Homo sapiens: one gene and its partners. Each later gene encodes a partner of the first gene's protein in a complex. Each region holds a gene or a part of one and is shown in the gene's direction. Other genes may lie near its edges.

Region 1 (7,021 bases):
CTATGCTGGTTAAAACGTGTGCCCAGATCCCCATCCTGGTTAAAAAACTGCTCATGCCTATAATCTCAGCACTTCTGGGAGGCTGACATGGGAGGATTGCTGGAGCCCAGGAGTTTGAGACCAGCCTGGGCAACACAGTGAGCCACTGTGAGCCATGATCCTGCCACTGCACTCCAGCCTGGGCAACATAGCGAAATACTATCTCAAAAAACAAAACAGGCTGGGCACAGTGGCTCACACCTGGAATCCCAGCACTTTGGGAGGCTGAGGCGGGTGGATCACTTGAGGCCAGGAGTTCAAGACCAGCCTGGCCAACACAATGAAACCCCGTCTCTAATAAAAATACAAGAATTAGCCGGGTACGGTGGTGGGCACCTGTAATCCCAGCTACCCGGGCAACTGGGGCAGGAGGATCAGTTGAACCTGAGAGGCGGAGGTTGCAGTAAGCCAAGATCATACCAATTGCGCTCCAGCCTGGGCGACAGAGCGACTCCATCTCAAAAAATAAAAATAAATAAAACTGTGAGCTCAGCGGCTGGACCCCCTGGGTTCCCACCCCTGCCGTGCCACCTCTTGGCTCTGCGCTTCACCTCTGTGCCTCAGTGTACCACTTTGCAAAACGAGCATATTTAAAACTCATGTCAATGATAGAATGATCGAGAGAGTGCTGTTCTCTAGGCAGAGGTTACCGCAAGCTGGGAGCCACAAGGGGACCTGCCGGGTGATGGAAATGTTCCTTATCTTGATCTCGGTCAGAGGTCAGCACGCGTTTTCCAGAAAGGGCCAGAGAGTCAATATTTTTGGCTTTGTGGGCTAGACAGTCCCTGTCTGCTTTGTAGTTTGAAAGCAGCCACAGACGATATATGTACACTGTAAGCGTGTCTCTATTCCAGTAAAACCTTATTGGTAGTACACGCGGAAGTTTGAACATTGTAGAACTTTCATGGGCAATGAAATATTATTCCTTTTTTTGTTTTTTTTTATTCCCCCAACGATTTAAAAATGTAAAAATCAGTTTACCTGTGGTCCCAGCTACTTGGGAGGCCGAGGCAGGAGGATGACTTGAGCCCAGGAGTTGGAGTCTGGCCTGAACAACATGGCAAAACTCCATCTCTTTTTTTTTTTTTTTTGAGATGGAGTCTCACTCTGTTGCCCAGGCTGGAGTGCAGTGGCGTGATCTAGGCTCACTGCAACCTCTGCCTCCCAGGTTCAAGGGATTCTCCTGCCTCAACCACCCGAGTAGCTGGGACTACAGGTGTGTGCCCACCACACCCAGCTAATTTTTGTATTTTTAATAGAGACGGGGTTTCACCTCGTTGGCCAGGCTGGTCTTGAACTCCTGACCTCAGATGATCTGCCCACCTCAGCCTCCCAAAGTGCTGGGATTATAGGTGTGAGTCACCATGCCCGGCCACTGCATCTCTTAAAAAAAAAAAAAATAGTGAAAGCCATTCTTAGCTCTTACAAACTATAAAAACAGGCTGGCCCACCAGCCAGCATTTGCCAACTCCTAGGCTGGCTGATGGTTTCCTGGGTGGATGCATATGTAACCTGTTCCTCTTGCCCACCTCACTGAATGCATTTTATTTATTTATTTATTTTGAGACAGAGTCTCACTCTGTCGCCCAGAATGGGCGTTGGAATGCAGTGGCGTGATCTCAGCTCACTCCAATCTCCGCCTCTCAGGTTCAAAGATGCCCATGCCTCAGCCTCCCTAATAGCTGGGACTACAGGCATGTGCCATCATGCCCAACTAATTTTTGGTTTTAGTAGAGATGGGGTTTCACCATGTTGGCCAGGCTGGTCTTGAACTCCTGACCTCAAGTGTTCTCCCCTCTGCAGCCTCCCAAATTGCTGAGATACAGGTATGAGCTACTGCACCCAGCCTGAATGCATTTTATCTTTTATCTTTTTTTTTTGAAACGGGGTCTCGCTCTGCCATCCAGGGTGGAGTGCAGTGGCGCAGTCATGGCTCGCTGCAGCCTCGACCTCCTGAGCTCAGGTGATCCTCTCACTTCAGCCTCCCAAGTAACTGGGACTACAGGCGTGCACCACCACACCTGGCTAATTTTTTATAGATCTAATTTTTTAGAAAGTAGAAGTAATGGGTTGGGCATGGTGGCTCACGCCTGTAATCCCAGCACTTTGGAGTCAAGAGATCAAGACTATCCTGGCTAACATGGTGAAATCCCATCTCTACTAAAAATACAAAAATTAGCCGGGCGTGGTGGCGCACGCCTGTAATCCCAGCTACTTGGGAGGCTGAGGCAGGAGAATTGCTGGAATCTGGGAGGCGGAGGTTGCAGTGAGCTGAGATCACACCACTGTACCCCAGCCTGGGCGACAGAGTGAGACTCAGTCTCAAAAATAAAAAAAATAATAATAAAAAATGGACATTGTCAAGCCAGGCATGATGGCTTGCACTTGTAGTCCCAGCTACTCAGGAAGCTGAACGAAGAAGATCGCTTGAGGCCAGAAGTTTGAGACCAGCCTGAGGAACAGAACAAGACCCCATCTCTACAAAAATTAGGCCGGGCGCGGTGGCTGACGCCTGTAATCCCAGCACTTTGGGAGGCTGAGGCAGGTGGATCACCTCAGGTCGGGAGTTGAAGACCACCCTGACCAACATGGAGAAACCCCATCTCTACTAAAAATATAAAAAATTAGCCGGGCGTAGTGGTGCATGCCTGTAATCCCAGCTGTTTGGGAGGCTGAGGTAGGAGAATCACTTGAATCCGGGAGGCGGAGGTTGCAGTGAGCGAAGATCACACCATTGTACTCCAGCCTGGGCAACAAGAGTGAAACTCCATCTCAAAAAAAAAAAAAATGAGCTGGACGTGGTGGTGCATGCCTTTAGTCCCAGCTACTCAGGAGGCGGAGGTAGAGTTGGAGGCTGCACTGAGCTATGACTGCGCCCCTGCACTCCATCCTGGAAGACAGAGCAAGACCCTGTCTCTAAAAAAAAAAATTCAGGTTGGGCATGGTGGCTCACGCCTGTAATCCTGGCACTTTGGGAGGCCGAGGCGGGTGGATCACCTGAGATCAGGAGTTCCAGACCAGCCTGGCCAACATGGTGAAACCCCGTCTCTACTAAAAATACAAAAATTAGCCAGCCATGGTGGTGCAGGCGTGTGGCTGGAGGAGAGTGAGTGAGGGGCTGCGTGGGAGGAGAGGTGAGGACAGAGAGGTCGGGGGCAGATCTTGCAGGGCCTCGGAGGCTGCTGTGGTTATGAGGGCATCTCTGACTCCCCTTACTCTGGCCTCCTCTCTCCGCCACAGAGCTCCCCCATCCAGGAATCCACTGCTCCCGAGCTGCCTTCGGAGACCCAGGAGACCCCAGGCCCCGCCCTGTGCAGGTGACACCACTCCCTGGCCCCCTGTCCACCACCCCTGCCCGCTGTCCTTGTTCTCACCAGTGGCCTCTCTCCACAGCCCTCTGAGGAAGTCACCTCTGACCCTCGAAGATTTCAAGTTCCTGGCGGTGCTGGGCCGGGGTCATTTTGGGAAGGTGAGGTGGAGGGCAGGGAATTGGGAGACCCCCCAGGTCCCTGGCTGGCCGCTAAAACCACCCCTGCCCACTGTGGTTCCAGGTGCTCCTCTCCGAATTCCGGCCCAGTGGGGAGCTGTTCGCCATCAAGGCTCTGAAGAAAGGGGACATTGTGGCCCGAGACGAGGTGGAGAGGTGGGGACCTGCCGTGGTCCTCTGGGGACCTCTTTCTTCTCTTTTGGGAAATGACAGAGCAGTTCTCTCCTTGGAGCTACAGGGAGAGTGACTCATAGTAGTCACTAACGCCAGGCACAGTGGCTCTTACCTGTAATCCCAGCACTCTGGGAGGCCGAGGCAGGTGGATCACTTGGGCTCAGAATTTCAAGACCAGGCTGGGCAACATGGTGACACCCCCATCTTTACAAAAAATACAAAATAATTAGCTGGGTGTGGTGGCACATGCTTGTAGCCCCAGCTACTCATGAGGCTGAGATAGGAGGATCGCCTGAGCCCAGTAGGTCAAGGTTGCAGTGAGCTGAGATCGCGCCACTGCACTCCAGCCTGGGCAACACAGTGAGACCCTGTCTCAAAACAAAAAGTCACTAATACCTACTAGCCTAATACCAAGATAATAATAGCTCTTAGGAAAGTTATTCATTTGTTCCTCCATGTAGCCCTATAAGATAAATACTGATGGCACAGAGAGGTTCAGCAATTTACCCAAGGTCACACAGCCAGTAAGCAGCAGGTCCAGGATTCAAAGCTAGAGACTCAGGCTCTGAAGCCTGTGCCCTTTGTGGTGCCACCATACTGCCTCTGCTTTAGGGTCAGGTTCCTGGGTTCAAATCTCAATTCTGCAGCATGGGCTTGGAGATCCTGGGGAGGTCACTTCTCCCTTCAGAACCTCAGCTTCTTGGCTGGGCATGGTGGCTCACGCCTGTAATCCCAGCACTTTGGGAGGCTGAGGTGGGCAGATCATCTGAGGTCAGGACATCGAGACCAGTGTGGCCAACATGGTGAAACCCCGTCTCTACTAAAAATACAAAAATCAGCCAGGCATGGTGGCGGGTGCCTGTAGTCCCACCTACTTGGGAGGCTGAGGCAGGAGTATCGCTTGAACCCAGGAGGCGGAGGTTGCAGTGAGCCAAGATCGCACCACTGCACTCCAGCCTGACTCTGTCTCAAAAAAAAAAAAAAAAAAAAAAAAGAACCCCTCTTGTTGTGGAGAAGCAGAATGCTATTGCCTTCCACACATGGTTGTCAGGTGCTCTCTACACAGTGCCTAACCCCTCTAAACATTCGGTACAGGCACTGAGATTGTGCCTGGTCTTCCCAGCATCCTTTTGATAATCAGGAACCCAACTGAGAAAGACTGAAACAAGTAAAGAAATTTATTGGTCTGGATCTGAAAAGTCCAGGAGTGTGCTACCTTCAGGCATGGCTGTATCCAGGTGCTGAGATGACGTTTCTCAGTTCTGCTTCCCTCTGTATGGGCTTTGGTTGCCATCTGGGAGTCTGGAGTAAGTGGCGGCCATGGTCTCTGACTTCTATCCCCCACCCCTCCCCAGCCTGATGTGTGAGAAGCGGATATTGGCGGCAGTGACCAGTGCGGGACACCCCTTCCTGGTGAACCTCTTCGGCTGTTTCCAGACACCGGAGCACGTGTGCTTCGTGATGGAGTACTCGGCCGGTGGGGACCTGATGCTGCACATCCACAGCGACGTGTTCTCTGAGCCCCGTGCCATGTGAGCCTGGACCCCAGCCCGGGCCCCTGCCTCCCCTACAGCATCTGACACTTAGTCCCCCCGAGAGGCTGGCAGCCTGCTTCTCACCCCTCCACCCTCAGGCCTTGCTTCCCTCAGCCTCCCAGAGCTTTGGGGAGACTGGGGGGCTTTTGAGGATGTGGAAGCCAGGCTTATGTGACCCTCCCTCCTTGCAGGGTGGCCCCACCCCTCTCAGCAGCCTCTCTCTCTCTGCAGCTTTTATTCCGCCTGCGTGGTGCTGGGCCTACAGTTTCTTCACGAACACAAGATCGTCTACAGGTGTGTGCGTGTGTGCATGCATGTGCACACTGCCCGTTGTGGGGACAGGACCCAGACCCCCGCTCATCCCTCTTTCCACCCCTCCAACCCCCAACAGGGACCTGAAGTTGGACAATTTGCTCCTGGACACCGAGGGCTACGTCAAGATCGCAGACTTTGGCCTCTGCAAGGAGGGTGAGGGGCTGGCCTCTGGATTAGACAAAGGAGGGGGAAGGAATGGGGTCCCTAACCCTATTCGGGGTGCCCCCCACCCTGACCCTGGGACAGGGCTGGCTGTGTGGACAACCCCACATTGGGCTGAGTGACTCCTCTGGCCCCCATAACCTCACATGGCCTTGCTGTCCCCAGGGATGGGCTATGGGGACCGGACCAGCACATTCTGTGGGACCCCGGAGTTCCTGGCCCCTGAGGTGCTGACGGACACGTCGTACACGCGAGCTGTGGACTGGTGGGGACTGGGTGTGCTGCTCTACGAGATGCTGGTTGGCGAGGTGAGACCCCGCCCCTGTGTGTCTCGGATCTCATTGGAACCTGCGCGTGCCCAGGGTGGGATCCAAGTCTGCCTCCACCATGTGTTGTGTGATTGAGGGCTGCTGGCTCTGCTTCCCTGGCCTCAGTTTCCACATCTATAAAATGGGGCATTTCCCTGCCCAAGTAAGCCAGCACCCAAGAGCTGCAGCAGAGTGTGGGGCTCAGGCCGGGCTGGGTTTGGAGCAGCCAGAGGAGGGGCCTCGTTCACCCCGGGCCTCCCTCTCCCCAGTCCCCATTCCCAGGGGATGATGAGGAGGAGGTCTTCGACAGCATCGTCAACGACGAGGTTCGCTACCCCCGCTTCCTGTCGGCCGAAGCCATCGGCATCATGAGAAGGGTGAGGACCCCCGACGTGGGGCGGGCCTGGGGAGGGGCAGTGGGGCCCAGGAGGGGACAGATCCTGACACAGTGCTCCTTCCTCCAAGCTGCTTCGGAGGAACCCAGAGCGGAGGCTGGGATCTAGCGAGAGAGATGCAGAAGATGTGAAGAAACAGCCCTTCTTCAGGGTGAGATTCCCCACAAGGACCTCAGTGACCCCGGCCCTCCCCCAGGGCCGATTCATCACCCCACAGCAGACGGCCCCCATGCCTAGCCGCTTTGCCTCAAGGGCCTCGTTGCGCCTCAAGGGCCTCGTTGCACCTCCAGGGCAACATCGTCACCTCCTTTGACACCCCCATTTCCCTCCTCCACTTTTGTTCCCCCCAAGGACCCTCCTAATCCCACATCTCCACTTTTCCCTTTTTTTTTTTTTTTTAGCCAGGGTCTCGCTCTGTCGCCCAGGCTGGAGTGCAGTGGCTCAATCTCGGCTCACTGCAACCTCCGCCTCCCAGGTTCATGCAGTTCTCCTGCCTCAGCCTCCCGAGTACCTGGGATTACAGGCGTGCACCACTCCACCACACCAGGCTAATTTTTGTATTTTTAGTAGAGACGGGGTTTCGCCATGTTGGCCAGGCTGGTCCTG
Region 2 (7,021 bases), on another chromosome or scaffold:
AAACCCCGTCTCTACTAAAAATACAAAAAAAATTAGCTGGGTGTGGTGGCGGGCGCCTGTAGTCCCAGCTGCTCTGGAGGCTGAGGCAGGGGAATGGCGTGAACCCGAGAGGCGGAGCTTGCCGTGAGCTGAGATCGCGCCACTGTGCTCCAGCCAGGGCAACAGAGCGAGACTCCGTCTCAAAAAAAAAAAAAAAGGATCTTAAGTATTTTGTCTGACTCTGCCATTTAGTTTATTCCTTTGTTTACCTGCCCAATGGAACTGTTTGCTTGTAACTACACATTAATATAACTAAATTTTGAACTTAATGTTACATGCCTTGCTATACATGGGGCTCTTTGGGGACATGCTCATTTGTGGGATTAAAATTTCCAAGACGGTTTGAAGTTTGTAATTACTATAAAATCCCTCATCTTTAATCTGTGGAGCTGTAGTATTAAGTGAAGGCCTTGGTATGTTCATAATTACGATAGTCATGTGACTGAAAATCAGGCACTGAAGCTGCTCGTTCTGGGTGTTGGTCTCAGTTTATTGATGCTTCATCCAAATACATTTTTATAGCTAATAATAAAGAAAAACATCAAATACTCTTGCTAAATTGCAATCAGTATGCAGTTTATGCCAAACTTAGCTTGATTTTATTTTTTGAAGAGGATGAGTATGTATATTTAAGCATATGTGTGTGTGTGTATATGTATATATACTTGTGTATACGTATATACGTGTATACGTATATATATGTGTACATATACGTGTATACGTATATATATGTGTACATATACGTGTGTGTATGTGTGTGTGTATATATATATATTTTTTTTTTTTTCTCTTTTGAGACTGAGTCTCACTCTGTCGTCCGGGCCAGAGTGCAGTAGCGCCATCTCGGCTCACTGCAACCGCCGCCTCCTAGTTCAAGTGATTCTTGTGCCTCGGCCTCTGGAGTAGTTGGGAGTACCAGCATGCGCCACTGTGCTCAGCTAATTTTTGTATTTTTAGTAGAGACGGGGTTTCACCATGTTGGTCAGGCTGTTCTCGAACTCCTGGCCTTGTGATCTGCCCCCCTTGGCCTCTGAAAGTGTTGAGATTGCAGGTGAGAGCCACTATGTCTGGCCATATTTAAGCATATTTATGATAGTATCTTAAATTTAAGTGAAGGGAAAGAGGAAAACATACACAGCCAATGAAGTAAGTTTGAAGTGGAGTGAAAGGAAAAGTTGGAGGTAAAAAGAGGTTAGAGAGGTGGGCAGGGGCCAAATCATATAGGGCCTTTAGGACATGGGAAATTCTTTGGATTTGTTCTGAGATTAGAAGTCATTTAGATATTCTTTAGAAAGGGAATGACATGATCTGATATTAAAAAAAAAACTAGAATCACTGTGAGTAGGAGTAGATCTAATTCCATTCTGACTAAATAGTAAACTAATATGATAATTTGGACAAATATAAAAAGGAATTCCTGGCTGGGAGCAGTGGCTGATGCCTGTAATCCCAGCACTTTGGAAGTGCTGGGCAGGTGGATCACTTGAGGTCAGGAGTTTGAGACCAGCCTGGCCACATGGTGAAACCCTGTCTCTACTAAAAATACAAAACATTAGCTGGGCGTGGCAGCAGGCGCCTATAATCCCGGCTATTCAGGAGGCTGAGATAGGAGAATCACTTTAACCTGGGAGGCGGAGGTTGCTGTGAGCAGAGATCGAGCCATTGCACTCCAGCCTGGGAGACGGTGCAAGACTCAAAAAAAAAAAAAAAAAAAAAAAAACGGAAAGGATTTCATAATATTAATTTCCTTGACTTAGTGACTTCTGCCTATTTTATTTGAAGTCATTGGTTCTTCTCTTCTCTTCTCTTGAGACAGGGTCTCACTGTCACCCAGGCTGGAGTGCAGTGAGTGATCTTTGTTCACTTCAACCTTTGTTTCCCAGGTTCAAGCGATTCTCGTGCCTCAGTCTCTAGAGTAGCTGGGACTACAGGTGTGTGTGTGTGACCATGCCCGACTAATTTTTGTATTTTTAGTAAAGACGGGATCTCACCATGTTGGCCAGGATGGCCTTGATCTCTTGACCTCGTGACCCCGTGACCCACCCACCTTGGCCTCCCAAGGTGTTGGGATTACAAGCATGAGCCACTAAGGATTTGTTTTTAAAATTTTTTTGCTTTATTTTTTTCTTCTCTTTTTTTGTACTAGAGATGGTGTCTTGCTATGTTGCCCAGACAGATCTTGTACTCCTGGGCTCAAGTTGTCCTCCTGCCTCAGCCTCCCAAAGTGCTGGGATTAAAGATGTGAGTCAAGCGATTCTCGTGCCTCAACCTACCCACTAGCTCGATTACAGGTGCCATCCACCACCTGCCCACCACCCTTGGCTAATTTTTGTATTTTGTATTTTAGTAGAGACAAGAATTTTACCATGTCGGCCAGGCTGGTCTCAAATTCCTGACCTCAGGCAATCCACCCGCCTCAGCTTCCTGCTGGGATTACGGGCGTGAGCTACCCTGGCCAAGATTTTTAATTTCTGAAGCTTATAGCTGCTCTAAAGCACAAGGATTCAGTCCCATGATTTAAAAAAGTTGCTTGTTTTGACTTCAAGTATATGGTTGAGCATTCTAACTTTTGTTATGTATACATTTTTATTTTACTGTATTCTTCTAGCCATTGTATCCTAGTCTGTATGTTGCAGATGAGTTGTGATTCTCTGGTGTCTCTTCCATGGACCTAGAGATCATATGCTCTACTACTGGGATTTTTTTTTGTAACTTTGTTTGGGATATAGGCTTTGAGAGGTTAAGGAAGTAAATTTAAGATGGATATTTAATGTTGTAACACTTTGTTAATGCTTTTTTCTACAAGATAATTTTATTATGTGATATGGCAGCTTTGTTGGAAATACCTGTTTTTTTGTGTGTGTGGAAAATTTCTTTTCTGGATGAAATCTCTTGTTTAACTTTTCCAGTTATTCATAATGAAGCTCTGTTTATCTTTTGAAGATCTTAAGTTCAGAAACAGAAGGCAGGCTGCGTATGGTGGCTCATGCCAGTTATCCCAGCACTTTGGGAGGCCGAGGTGGGTGGGTCACCTGAGGTCAGGAGTTCGAAACCAGTCTGACCAACATGGTGAAACCCCATCTCTACTAAAAATACAAAAATCAGCCGAGTGTATTAGTGAGTGCCTGTAATCCCAGCTACTCGGAAGGCTGAAGCAGGAGAATCCCTCGAACTTGAGAGGCGCAGGTTGCAGTGAGCCAAGATTGCTGCACTCCAGCCCGGGCAACAGAGCGAAACTCCGTCTCAAACATACACACAAAAAAAAGAAGGAAAGAAAAGGCAGTAGAGTATCTTATTTAAGAGCATGGATTCTGGAGAGAAACTGACAGTTAAATACTAGCTCTGACACTTGATGGCTTGAGACCCTTGGCAGTAGTATGTCTCCTTTGTAATTCAGTTTTTTTCTTCTGTAGAAAGGGAATGGTAAGGAAGCGCCATGAGATTTCAGTGAGAGAGAAGCACTTACCTCAAGTGCCAGACATGTAGCCCTTCAACTAACTTATTTTATTTATTTATTTTTTGAGATGGAGTTTTGCTCTTGTTGCCCAGGCTGGAGTGCAATGGCGTGATCCCAGCTCACTGCAACCTCCACCTCCTGGATTCAAGTGATTCTCCTGCCTCAGCCTCCCCATTAGTTGGGGTTTACAGGCATGTCACCATGCCCAGCTAATTTTTTTTTTTTTTTTTTTTTTTTTGAGACACAGTCTCGCTCTGTCACCCAGGCTGGAGTGCAGTGGCGCGATCTCGGCTCACTGCAACCTCCGCCCTCCGAGTTCAAGCAGTTCTCCTTCCTCAGCCTCCTGAGTAGCTGAGACTACAGGTGCCCGCCACCACGCCCGGCTAGGTGTTTTTTTTTTTTGTATTTTTAGTAGAGACAGGGTTTTACCGTGTTAGCCAGGATGGTCCCGATCTCCTGACCTCAGGTGATCTGCCTGCCTCCGCCTCCCAAAGTGTTGGGATTATAGGTGTGAGCCACCGCGCCTGGCCTACTTTTTTTATTATTTTTTTTTTTGGAGACAAGAGTCTCGCTCTGTCGCCCAGGCTGGAGTGCAGTGGCGTGATCTCGGCTCACTGCAAACTCTGCCTCCCGGGTTCATGCGGTTCTCCTGCCTTAGCCTCCCAGGTAAACTGGGACTACAGGTGCATGCTGCCACGCCTGGCTAATTTTTTTTTTTTTTTGTATTTTAGTAGAGACGGGGTTTAACCATGTTGCCCAGGCTGGTCTCCATCTCCTGAGCTCAGGCAATCTGCCTGCCTTGGCCTCCCAAAGTGCTAGGATTACAGCCGTGAGCCACCGTGCCTGGCCTTCTGGCCTTTTTTTTTTTTTTTTTTTTTTTTTTTGAGACGGAGTCTTGCTCTGTTGTCTAAGCTGGAGTGTAGTGGCACAATCTCGGCTCACTGCAATCTCTGCCTACCAGGGTGCAAGCGATTCTCCTGCCTCAGCCTCCCAAGTAGCTGGGACTACAGGTGCGTGCCACCATGCCCGGCTAATTTTGTGTGTGTGTGTGTGTGTGTGTGTTTTACTAGAGACGGGGTTTTACTTTGTTGGCCAGGCTGGTCTTGAACTCCTGACCTTGTGATCCACCTGCCTTGGCTTCCCAAAGTACTGGGATTACGGGTGTGAGCCACTGCGCCTGGCTTTTTTTTGGAGAGATAAGGTCTTGTTTTGTCATCTAGGCTGGAGTGCAGTGGCACAGTCATAGCTCATGGTGGCCTCCAACTTTTGGTGTCAAGGTATCCTTACGCCTCGTCCTCCCTAGTAGCTGGGACTACAGGTGTATGTGCCACTGCGCCCAGCTAATATTTTTACATTTTGTAGAGATGGAGTCTTGCTGTCTTGCCCAGGTTGGGTCTCAGACTCCTGGGCTCAAACAGTCCTCCCACCTCAGACTCCCAAAGTGCTGCAAGTACGGGCATGAGCCACTGAGTCCAGCTATCTTCAACTTTCACTATTCAGGTTACAGTTTGTAGTACCTTTTTTCGGGGGTGGTGGGAGGGTAGTGGGAGTAGCACCCTAAGATTTCTTGGAATAAAACAGGGCTTACTACTTGGTTCCTGGTACTTAAGAACAGTGGTTCCTAGACTCCACTGTTCCCAAACTTGGAATCCAGTTCCCCAAATTGGAATCACCTGAGGTTTAATTACCTTCATGGAGGTTTAATTTGCATACAATAAAATGCACATACTTTAAATGATAGTTTGATAATTTTTTTGTTCTTATTTTTTTTAGACATAGGGCCTTGTTCTGTCACCCAGCTGAAGTGCAGTGTCGGAATCATGGCTTACTACATCCTCGACCTCCTAGGCCCAAGAATTCTCTGCTTTAGCCTCCCGAGTAGCTGGGACTGCAGGTGTGCACCACCACGCCTGGCTACATTTTTATTTTGTAATTTTTTTTTTTGTAGAGAGAGGGGTCTCACTATGTGCTCAGACTGGTCTTGAACTCCTGGCCTTAAGTGATTCTCTCGTCTCAACCTCACAAAGCCCTGGGATTATAGGCATGAGCCACCACAAACCGCCAGTTTGATAAATTTTGATGAATGTGTATACCCAAGTAATTGCCACTCAGTCGAGTTAAAGAGCATTTCCTCAAGGCTTTAAATTTTTATTTTTATTTTTGAGACGGAGTCTTATTCTGTCATCTAGGAGTGCAGTGCCGCAATCTTGGCTCACTGCAGCCTCTGCCTCCCGGGTTCAAGTGATTCCCCTGCCTCAGCCTCCTGAGTAGCTGGGACTACAGGTGCGTGCCACCACACCCAGCTAACTTTTTGTATTTTTAGTAGAGATGGGGTTTCACTCTGTTAGCCAGGATGGTCTCGATCTGATCTTGTGATCCGCCTGCCTCTGCTTCCCAAAGTGTTGGGATTACAGGCGTGAGCCACCGCGCTCGGCGGGTTTCTTTTTTTTTTTTTTTATGAGATGGAATCTCGCTCTGTTGCCCAGGCTGCAGTGCAGTGGCACGATCTCAACTCACTGCAACCTCCGCCTCTCGGGTTCAAGCGATTCTTCTGCTTCAGCCTCCCGAGTAGCTGGAACTACAGGCACCCGCCACCACGCCCGGCTAATTTTTTGTGTTTTTAGTGGATACGGGGTTTCGCCATGTTGGCCAGGCTGGTCTCAAAGGCCTGACCTTGTGATCCTCCTGCCTCGGTCTCCCAAAGTGCTGGAATTACAGGTGTGAGCCACTGCTCCTGGCCTAAAGTTTTTTAGACTAGTTTTTTTGTTCATTCGTTTTATTTGCTTGGCTTCCTAGAATATGACAAGTTTTGGTTTGTTTTTGAGACAGAGTCTTGATCTGTTTCCCAGGCTGGAGTGCAGTGGTGCTATCGTGGCTCACTGCAGCCTCTAACTCTTGTGCCCAAGTAATACTCCTGCCTCAGCCTCATGAGCATCTGGGACTACAGGCAAGCACCACCATACCTAGTTAATTAATTTAATTTTTATAGAGATGACGTTTTGCCATGTTGTCCAGGCTGGTCTCTAACTCCTGAGCTCTGGCCTCGCAAAGTGGTGGGATTATAGGTGTGAACCACTGCACCCGGCCTAGTTTTTTATTTTAAGAAATATATATACTTGGTAAAAGTAAACTCCTGCAATAAGGTTTACAATAAGCATATATAAATTCTTAGCCAGCTCACTGGGAGGTACCTAATGGTTCATTTTTCTTTGTCAGTTTTACTAGATACGCATTGTCTTAGAGGCAATGTAAGTTTGGAATTAGGCCAAACAAAGTCAAATCCTGATTCTGTGCATCCATTGAAGGTTAACCTTATAATATTTACATTTTGAGATAAATGATTTCATGCTCTTATTTAGGAAACTTGACGGTATGTTACCTCAGGGATTGTTCCTTGCCTGTCTTTCCCCAAAGAACTTGAGTTTGAAGTGATTTTCACTTGGCAGTAAATTGAAGGTTTTCTTCATTGCTTACCACCATGTGCCTTATTCCTGCTGCTCTTGATCTCCAAGTGCCCTTACTGCT
Region 3 (8,013 bases), on another chromosome or scaffold:
GAATTTTAAAAGTCCAGTTAAAATCCGATCCTAACTTGTCTTTTAGATGTTTCAATGCATATATTCACACATATCTATTACAGAATTTTTGTATAAAGTATGAGGTAGTAGTCCAAATTCATTTCTTTTGCACGTGGATATCTAGTTTTCCCAGCACCATGTGTTAAAGAGATCATTTTTCCCCTTTGAATTATCTTGGCATCCTTGTTAAAAAACAACCTACTCTTTAAATTTAGCCTTATATTCTTTCTACACAAAGCATTTGGCAGCCCAACTGTTTTTCATTGAGATATAATTCACATACCATAAAACTCACCCTTTTAAGGTGTGTAATTCACTGGTTTTTAGTCCATTCACAAGGTTGTGTAACCATCACCATGATCTAATTCCGGAATATTTTCATCATGCAAAAACAAAACAAAACAAAACAAAACAAAAACCAAACCTCATGCCCACTAGCAGTCACTCCTCATTCCTCCCTCCTCTCAGTTCCTGGCAACCAACAAATCTACTTTCTGTCTTCATGGGTTTGCCTATTCCGGACATTGCATGTAAACGGACTTACACAATAGATGTCATTTTGTGACTGGCTTCTTTCACTTAGCATAATGTTTTCAAGGTTCATTTATGTTGTAGCATTTATCAGTACTTTGTTTTTTTCACAGCTGAATAATATTCCATTGCACAGATAGATCACATTTTCTTTATCCATTCATCAGCTGAGGGACATTTAGTTTGCTTCCACTTTTTCCTCTTATGAATAATGTTGCTATGAACATTTGTGTACAAGCATTTGTGTGCATATATGCTTCAATTCTGTTGAGTATACCTAGGAGTAGAATTGCTGGATCATATGGTAACACCATGTTTAACTTTATGAAGAACCCACAAACTATTTTCCACAGTGGCTTCACCACTTTACGCTCTAACCACCAATGTATGAGGCTTCCAGTTTCTCCACATTATTTCCAGCACTTGTTTTCTGTCCTTTGGACTAAGGGCACCTTTGTGAGTGTAAAGTGGTATCTTATGGTGGCTTTGATTCACATTTCCCTAACAATTAATGATGTTGAGCGTCTTTTCATGTGCTTGTTGGCTACTTACATACGTTCTCTGAACATTTTCAAATCCTTTGCTCATTTAAAAAGTTGTTTGTTATTGAGTTTCAGGAGTCCTTTATATATTCTGGATATGAGTCGTGACTATTTTCTCCCATTCCGTTGGTTGTCTTTTTACTTTCTTGATCATGTCTTTCAAAGCACAAAAGCTTGGAATTTTGATAAAGTCCAACTTATCTATTTTTTTCTTTGGTTGTTTGTGCTTTAGGTGTCAAATCTGAGAAATCATTGCTTCATCCAAGGTCACAAAGATTTTCACCTATGTTTTCTTCTAAGATTTTTATATTTTAAATCTTGCATTTGGGACTTTGATCCATTTTGGGTTAATTTTTGTATAAGGCCTGAAGGAGGAATCCAAATTCAGTTCTTTTGCATGTGGACATCTAGTTTTCCCAGCACCATTTGTTAAAAAGACCACTTTTTTCCCCCTGAATCATCTTGGCATCCTCGTTCAAAAAAGAGTCTACTTTATAAATTTAGCCTTATATATTCTAGGCAGCTTTCTATCTGATAAACATACTTATAGCATCTTTAAAAAATAAATATCTATTGAAATATGACAAGCATAAAGGAAAATATAAATATCATGTGTTTAACTTGGTCAGTTTCACAATGTATTTGCATCAATGCAACCACTATTCAGAGTAAAAATAGGAGATTACTGGCACCCCAGAAGTCCCCTTCACTCCTCCCCTAGTCACTACCTCCAACTTTCTCCCCAGTGGTAGCCTCTATCTTGGCTCCTACCTGTAATGCAGTTTTGCCTGCTTTTGAACTTTATAGAAAGGATACCATTCCGTATGCACGCTCTTGCACTCAGCCTGTTTCACCCAACATTATGTCTGTGAGGCTGCAGTTCTCGTGGGGGTACAGTGATTCATTTATTTTCATTGGTTATTAGAACCACAGCATTATTTTTAGTATATTCACTCAACAAAGATTTATTGCATGCCAGGTCCTGTTCTAGGCCTTGGGAGAAGGCAAGGGACAAAGCAAAAATTCCCTGTTCCCTTGGAGCTCATGCTGTCTTGGGTGAGAGACCAACAACAAAGACAATAAATAAGTAGAATACATAATGTGTTGTGTGCAGATAAGCGCTATGGAGAAAAATACAAAATAAAGCAGGAGAGAAGGGATTGGAGGGTGTTGCAGCTGTACACCGAATAGTTAGGGAAGGCCTTGCCGAGAAAGTCATATGGAAGCAAAGACCCAAAGGAGAGGAAGGAGGGAGCCAGGTAGATTTCTAAAGAAAGAGCATTCCAGGCACAGCAAAGGCAAAGGCCTGAGTGTAACTGCAGGTTTGGCATATTTGAGGAACAGCCAGGAGGCCAGTGTAGCTGGAGCAGAGTGAGTAAGATGAGAGTGTAAGAGGTGGGCAGAGAGGGTGCCAGAGGCCAAACAGCAATTGTAAGGACCTTGGCTTTTACTTTGGGATGGGAGCCATCAACAGAAGAGTTTCAGCAGAGGAGTGATAGAATTTGACTTAAAACAGCAACAACGACAACAACAGCAAAACCAACAGACTCACTCTGGCTGCTGGATTGAAGAAGGGCTGTAGATGGAGGCGTGGAGAATGGCCAGGAACTCCTGCTATCACCCAGGTGAGAGATGATGGAGATGTGGACCCAGGTGGTAATGGTGCATATGGCAAAAATGGGCTGCAGCTTGGAAATATTTGAAGGCCAAGCTGAAAAATTTGCTCCCAGATTGGATAGTGGGGCTGAGAGAAGATGGGTCGGGTTAAGTGTTCTAGGTTCAGATGTTCTGTCAGTTTTCTTAATTAATTTTCTGTTACTGGGCATTAGGGAGGTTTCTAGCTTCTCACTGCTGTAGGCAAGATGGTGGTGAACATCCTTGTAGATGGTTCTGTGCGCTGCCCAGAATGAATTTTCTAGGGTAGATTCAGTCCTTCTAATGCAGCATTTTCCAACCTTGGCTGACTGTGCACCACCTGCACAGGTATTTACTTGAAAGCGGTATGGGGTAGTGGTTAGAGCATTCATCTGTGCCAGAGGCCTGGGGCAAATCCCCATCTCTGGTGCCAGAGGAAAGGGGGCATCTCGAGGCTGGGGAGGCCCCTGGCAGGAGTGAGAAGTCCTGAGGAGCCCGGGCTTCAGGTCTCAGAGGGGGCCACTGTTTTTTGAGTACCTTCCTCTCTGTGGGACTCAGTTTCCCCATCTTCACCATGCCAGTGAGTGGGTGGGTGTAAGTGAGCGAGTCTGCCTGGAGGATCCTACTGCTGCTCTCTGCACCTCTTAGGGGAATCTCCTGCCTCCTCCTTCTCCCTTGGTGGGCGTGAGATCAAAGTTCAAATGTGTACCTCAGTTTCTGCATCTATAAGTTAGAGGCAATAATAGTCAATACCCTAGAGGTGGAAGTAACTGAGTTACTGTCTGTAAAGACTAGCACATGGTAAACACTTTCTAGATGCCAGTTATTTTCGTTATTTTTAAAAATTGACTTCACATTTTTTAAAACAACCAAATATGAGTTTCAAAAGGAACATTTACATTAACATGTTAAATGGAAAACCGGTGTCATTTGCTCCGGAGAACAGAAGAATGTAAAATAAAATATATTTAATGGAAACAAAAACAATGCTATTAAAGCTAATTAGATAGTTTCAGAGCCAAGTAATCTAGGCAGTGCTAGAAAGGTACTCAAACCCTATTAGTACTAAACTGAGAAATAAACTCCATTCAACATAAACGGAAAAACTGAAAGGAAAATGAAAAAAAAGAACCTTAAATGACCAGTCCACTCTTACCTAACATGTAACCTGTCACACTCTGGAAAAGTTTTCCTAGTTTTGGCTGTGTGTGCGTGTGTGTGTGTGTGTGTGTTGGGAAGTGAGGCGTGTGTTGGGAAGCGATGTGTGTGTTGGGAAGCGATGTGTGTGTGTTGGGAAGTGGGGTGTGTGTATATTGGGAAGCATGTTTGTGTGTGTTGGGAAGCGGTGTGTGTGTTGGGAAGTGGTGTGTGTGGGGTGTGGTGTGTGTGTGTTGGGAAGTGGTGTGTGTGTGGGGTGTGTGTATGTGCACGTGTGTGTTGGGAAGCAGTGTGTGTGGGGTGTGTGTGTGTTGGGAAAGCAGGGAGTGTAGTGTGTGTTTGTGTTGGAAAGTGGTGTGTGTGTGGGGTGTGTGTGTGTGTGCACGTGTGTGTTGGGAAGCGGTGTGTGTGGGGTGTATGTGTTGGGAAAGCAGGGTGTGTGTGTGTTGGGAAGTGGTGTGTGTGTGAGTGTTGGGAAGCAGGGTGTGTGTGTTGGAAGTAGGGGGTGTATGTGTATCGGGAAGCATGTTTGTGGTGGGGGGAAGCAGGGCGTGTGTGTGTGTGTATGTGAGTGTTGGGAAGCAAGGTATGTGTGTTGGGGGAAGCGAGGGCTGTGTGTGTATTGGGAAGCATGTTTGTGTGTGGGGGGAAGCGAGGGCTGTGTGTGTGTATTGGGAAACATGTTTGCGTGTGGGGGGGAAGCAGGGCGTGTGTGTGTGTTGCGAAGCGGTGTGTGTGTGGTGTGTGTGTGTGCGCGTGTGTGCTGGGAAGCGGTGTGTGTGGTGTGTGGTGTGTGTGTGTGTGTATGTGTATGTGTTGGGAAGCGGGTTGTTCCGAGGACTCCCCGATTCCCTCCTGGTTGAAACGTGGCCCAGAAAGAGAGGCACACTGGCTAGGGCACACAGCCAGGGCCGTCCAGCCCCGCAGGAAGCCCCGGTCCTGCCCTGTCCCAGGTAAGCCTGGCCAGCCCTGGAGCCGGCGCTGCGGGGCTGCGGGGCTGCGGGGCTGCGGGGCCACGGGACAGGAGCGGGTGCTGCGGTCCCGGCAGAGCAGGGGCGGGGTCCGGGCGGGGGCGGAGCCGAGCGCCCGCGCACCCGGAGCCGCAGCCCGAGCCGGAGCCGGAGCCGGGAGTCGTGGCCCGGAGTGGGCCTTGGAGTCGGCGCGCAGGCGGCTCGCGGTGAGTGCTGTGCCCAGCGCCTGGGGGTGGGCTGGGGGGAGACTGTGGGCGCCGAGGGTCCCACCCCCGGGACTTGAACACTTGGCTTCTGAGCCGTCCTGGCCGCAGGGCTTGGGCAAGGGTTGCCTCGGTTTCTCCTGGGGGAGTCCCAGAATGTAGATGGGAAGTGAGACGGAAAGGGGGCATCTCGAGGTTGGGGAGGCCCCTGGGCCACTCTTTTGATTTCCTTCCTCTCTGTGGGACTCAGTTTCCCCAGCTTCACCATGCCAGTGAGTGGGTGGGTATAAGTGAGAGAGTCTGCCTGGAGGATCCTGCTGCTGCTCTCTGTACCTCTTATGGGAATCTCCTGCCTCCTCCTTCTCCCTTGTTGGGTGTGAGATCTAAGTTCAAATCCATCCCTTCCCAGACAGCCCACACCAGGACCTGCGAGGCCACATCCCCCAGCTGTTTGCTCTCCTATGCTTCTCAGGTTGATGGAGCAGCCATCTGGTCCTGCTTTCATTCCAACAAACTGAAAAGCCCTCCACCCCAATCCCCCTGGGGAGGACCTCCTGAAGCTGCATGAGGGCTGGGGGCTGGACCCCTGCTTCTGAGTTTGCTCTTTCTGAGCCTCTCCTGCCATGGCCTTGGTTTCCCCATGGGCTGTGACCTAGCCTCCTCCAGGGTCCTTGTTCTACAGAGGGGAAACACCTGCCCTGTCACCCTCCCCTGACCCCTTAGTGAAAAAGACCAGAGTGACATCCCCACCACCTGTACTTGCCTGTCCCGATCACTCAGCCATGGGGCTGCTGGGGCCCCTGAGTTTGTTGGCTGCTCAAGGCCCCTTTGCCTCGCTGCACCCTGGGATCTGAGGCTGGAAGCATCCTCATCCAGCCCACCTCCCTCCTACCCAGTGCAGAGCCCCTCTGTGACACATGCCCAGTGGTGGGGAGCTTATTACTGATGAGGTGGCTTTTTAGTGCCTTGCAGCTCTTGTTTCCTTTAGCTAAAATCTGTGGCTTACAGATTCTACACCTTGGTTCCATGTCTGTCTCCCGGAGCCATGCAGAGCAAGTCAGTTCTTTCATTCTTTCCAGCAGTCATCATTCATGCACTGGATGAGACACGAGACAGAGCAGTAGGAAAATCAGACAAAACCCCCTGCCCTCATGGAGTGCACACTCTAGAAAGGAATGGACAGCAATGAAATAAGTAAATACATGGCGTAGCAGGTGGCGGGAAGTACTACGAGTAAAACAAAGCTGGGAAGCAGGATGGGGTGCTGGGGCTGGGTATTGCATTGTATATAGCACAACCAGGGAAGGCTTCCCCAAGACCACGATAGCTGGGCAAAGTCATAAGGAATTGAGGGGTGAGCCACATGAGTATCTGGGGGGCTGGGAGGCTTTGGTTTTCACTCTGAGCATGATGGGAGCACGGGTTTGGAACAGAGGAGTCACCTGCTTTGACTTGGGGTCTGGCAGGCCCATCTAGCTGTGGGGTGGAGAATGGATCATGGGGGGGGTGGGGTAAGGGCAGAAGGAGAGCCCGTTGAGCGGATCATTGCTGTCATTCTCGGGAGAGACCATGGTGTCTTGCCCATGGCCCAGAGGTGGTTAAAAAAAAGAAAACCAGACATTCAGATTTGGGATATATTTCAAAGGCCGTGTCGATAGGGTTTGGGGTGCAAGAGAAAGGTAGAGTCAAAGATGATTCTGAGTGTTTGGCTCGAGCTTCTGGAGGTTTGAAGCTGCCATGAACTGAAATGGGAGTTGCTTAGCGGAGAGATCAAGAGTTTGGTTTTGTGCTTGTGGAGTTTGAGCTGCCCATTAGGCATCAATGATGAGTAAGCAGTTGGGAAAAGTTAAGGGCGGAGGTTGGAGTTGAAAATAAAACTTTGGGCATCATCACCATATAACTGGTATTTAAAGCCACAAGAGCAGGTGGGCTCATCTAGGGATGGAGTGATATGGAGAAGAGAAGGGGTCTAACCATTGAGTGCTGGGGCCCCCAGTGTTAGGAACCAGCCAAGAAGACAGAAAGAGTGAAAATCAGAGAGTTGGGGTGTCCTGGAGGAAATGAAGAAAATGCCCCAAAGAGGAAGGAGGGAACAAATATGACCAATGCCCCTGGCAGAGCAAGCAGGCTGAGGGCTGAGGATTGAGCAATGGGAGGTCACTGGTGACAGTTTCACTGGAGCTGGATGGGGAACTAGAGGGAATGGGAGGGGATGGGAGGACTTGGGGACAGCAGTACAGGCAACAGACAAGGGGGCCTGCTGTAAAGGGAGCAGATAAATGGGATTGGAGCCAAATGAAGAAGGGGAGTGTCAAGAGAGTGCTTTACTTTTACAATGGAGAATTAGAGTGCATTGTGCACTGGTGGGGGGATTTGATCTCTTAGGGAGAGAACAGTGTTAGGGAGGGAGAATGCAGGATAGCTGGGGGAGGGTGGGGGGCTTGGCCCCAGCAGAGACTCAGGACACTTGGGAAGTTGAGCTTCCCTGGGCTTCCCCTCCTCTCCTGTCTGCAAGGGGTCAGTGGGCTGAGATTTCAGCACTTAAGCAAAGCATTTGCTCTTGGCCCCAGAGAAACCGGGCTGGCTGTGGTCTCAGGAAGGAAGGAGGTGTCCAGGCTCAGGCCTGGGCCTGGGTTTCAGGGAGGGCCCACGTGGGTCGCCCCTTGACCCTCTCTTTCAGCAAGGAAGTGATCCTTTCTCTACATGGGCCTCACCTTGGGGAGGACAATGGTGTCTTTGAAGTTGTAGTAACTGAAGTAGAGATCAAAAGGCAATGCAGATAGACTGACAGATTTCGCCTGAAGAGGGGAAGCCCGACCAGGTAATAAAGGAGTAAGAGGAAGGATGTTAAGGACAATTTTAGGAAACAGATAATGAGTGAATATTTTTTCTCTCTCTTTCCCAATTTAAACTGAAGCAGGAGAAACTGAAGCTAGACATAATGATTAACTT

Evidence for each region. Proteins that work in one complex are often made in the same cells at the same time.
Region 2: the proteins of PKN1 (region 1) and RHOA are in contact, whole or in part, in a crystal structure (PDB 1CXZ), measured with the Homo sapiens proteins. Residues at the interface, in NP_002732.3 of Homo sapiens: Glu40, Arg43, Arg44, Ile46, Arg47, Leu50, Lys51, Lys53, Glu54, Glu57, Asn58, Arg60, Arg61, Leu77, Arg78, Ser81, Leu84, Asp85, His88; in NP_001300870.1 of Homo sapiens: Met1, Ala2, Phe25, Ser26, Lys27, Asp28, Gln29, Val43, Asp45, Ile46, Glu47, Gln52, Glu54, Thr163, Lys164, Arg168, Glu169.
Region 3: PKN1 (region 1) and NOD2 share a complex: the UniProt entries of both Homo sapiens proteins name them as parts of the signaling complex.

What each region holds. Positions count from the first base shown.
Region 1 is NC_000019.10:14,464,286-14,471,306, forward strand, and holds part of PKN1 (serine/threonine-protein kinase N1), read left to right. Parts: intron 1-3,279; coding exon 3,280-3,356; intron 3,357-3,432; coding exon 3,433-3,508; intron 3,509-3,590; coding exon 3,591-3,682; intron 3,683-5,055; coding exon 5,056-5,232; intron 5,233-5,466; coding exon 5,467-5,529; intron 5,530-5,626; coding exon 5,627-5,703; intron 5,704-5,877; coding exon 5,878-6,020; intron 6,021-6,289; coding exon 6,290-6,397; intron 6,398-6,485; coding exon 6,486-6,566; intron 6,567-7,021. UniProt on the Homo sapiens protein: PKC-related serine/threonine-protein kinase involved in various processes such as regulation of the intermediate filaments of the actin cytoskeleton, cell migration, tumor cell invasion and transcription regulation.
Region 2 is NC_000003.12:49,401,971-49,408,991, reverse strand, and holds part of RHOA (transforming protein RhoA isoform 1 precursor), read left to right. Parts: intron 1-2,185; exon of another isoform or gene 2,186-2,280; intron 2,281-7,021. UniProt on the Homo sapiens protein: Small GTPase which cycles between an active GTP-bound and an inactive GDP-bound state.
Region 3 is NC_000016.10:50,688,599-50,696,611, forward strand, and holds the start of NOD2 (nucleotide-binding oligomerization domain-containing protein 2), read left to right. Parts: upstream 1-5,007; 5' UTR 5,008-5,064; intron 5,065-8,013. UniProt on the Homo sapiens protein: Pattern recognition receptor (PRR) that detects bacterial peptidoglycan fragments and other danger signals and plays an important role in gastrointestinal immunity.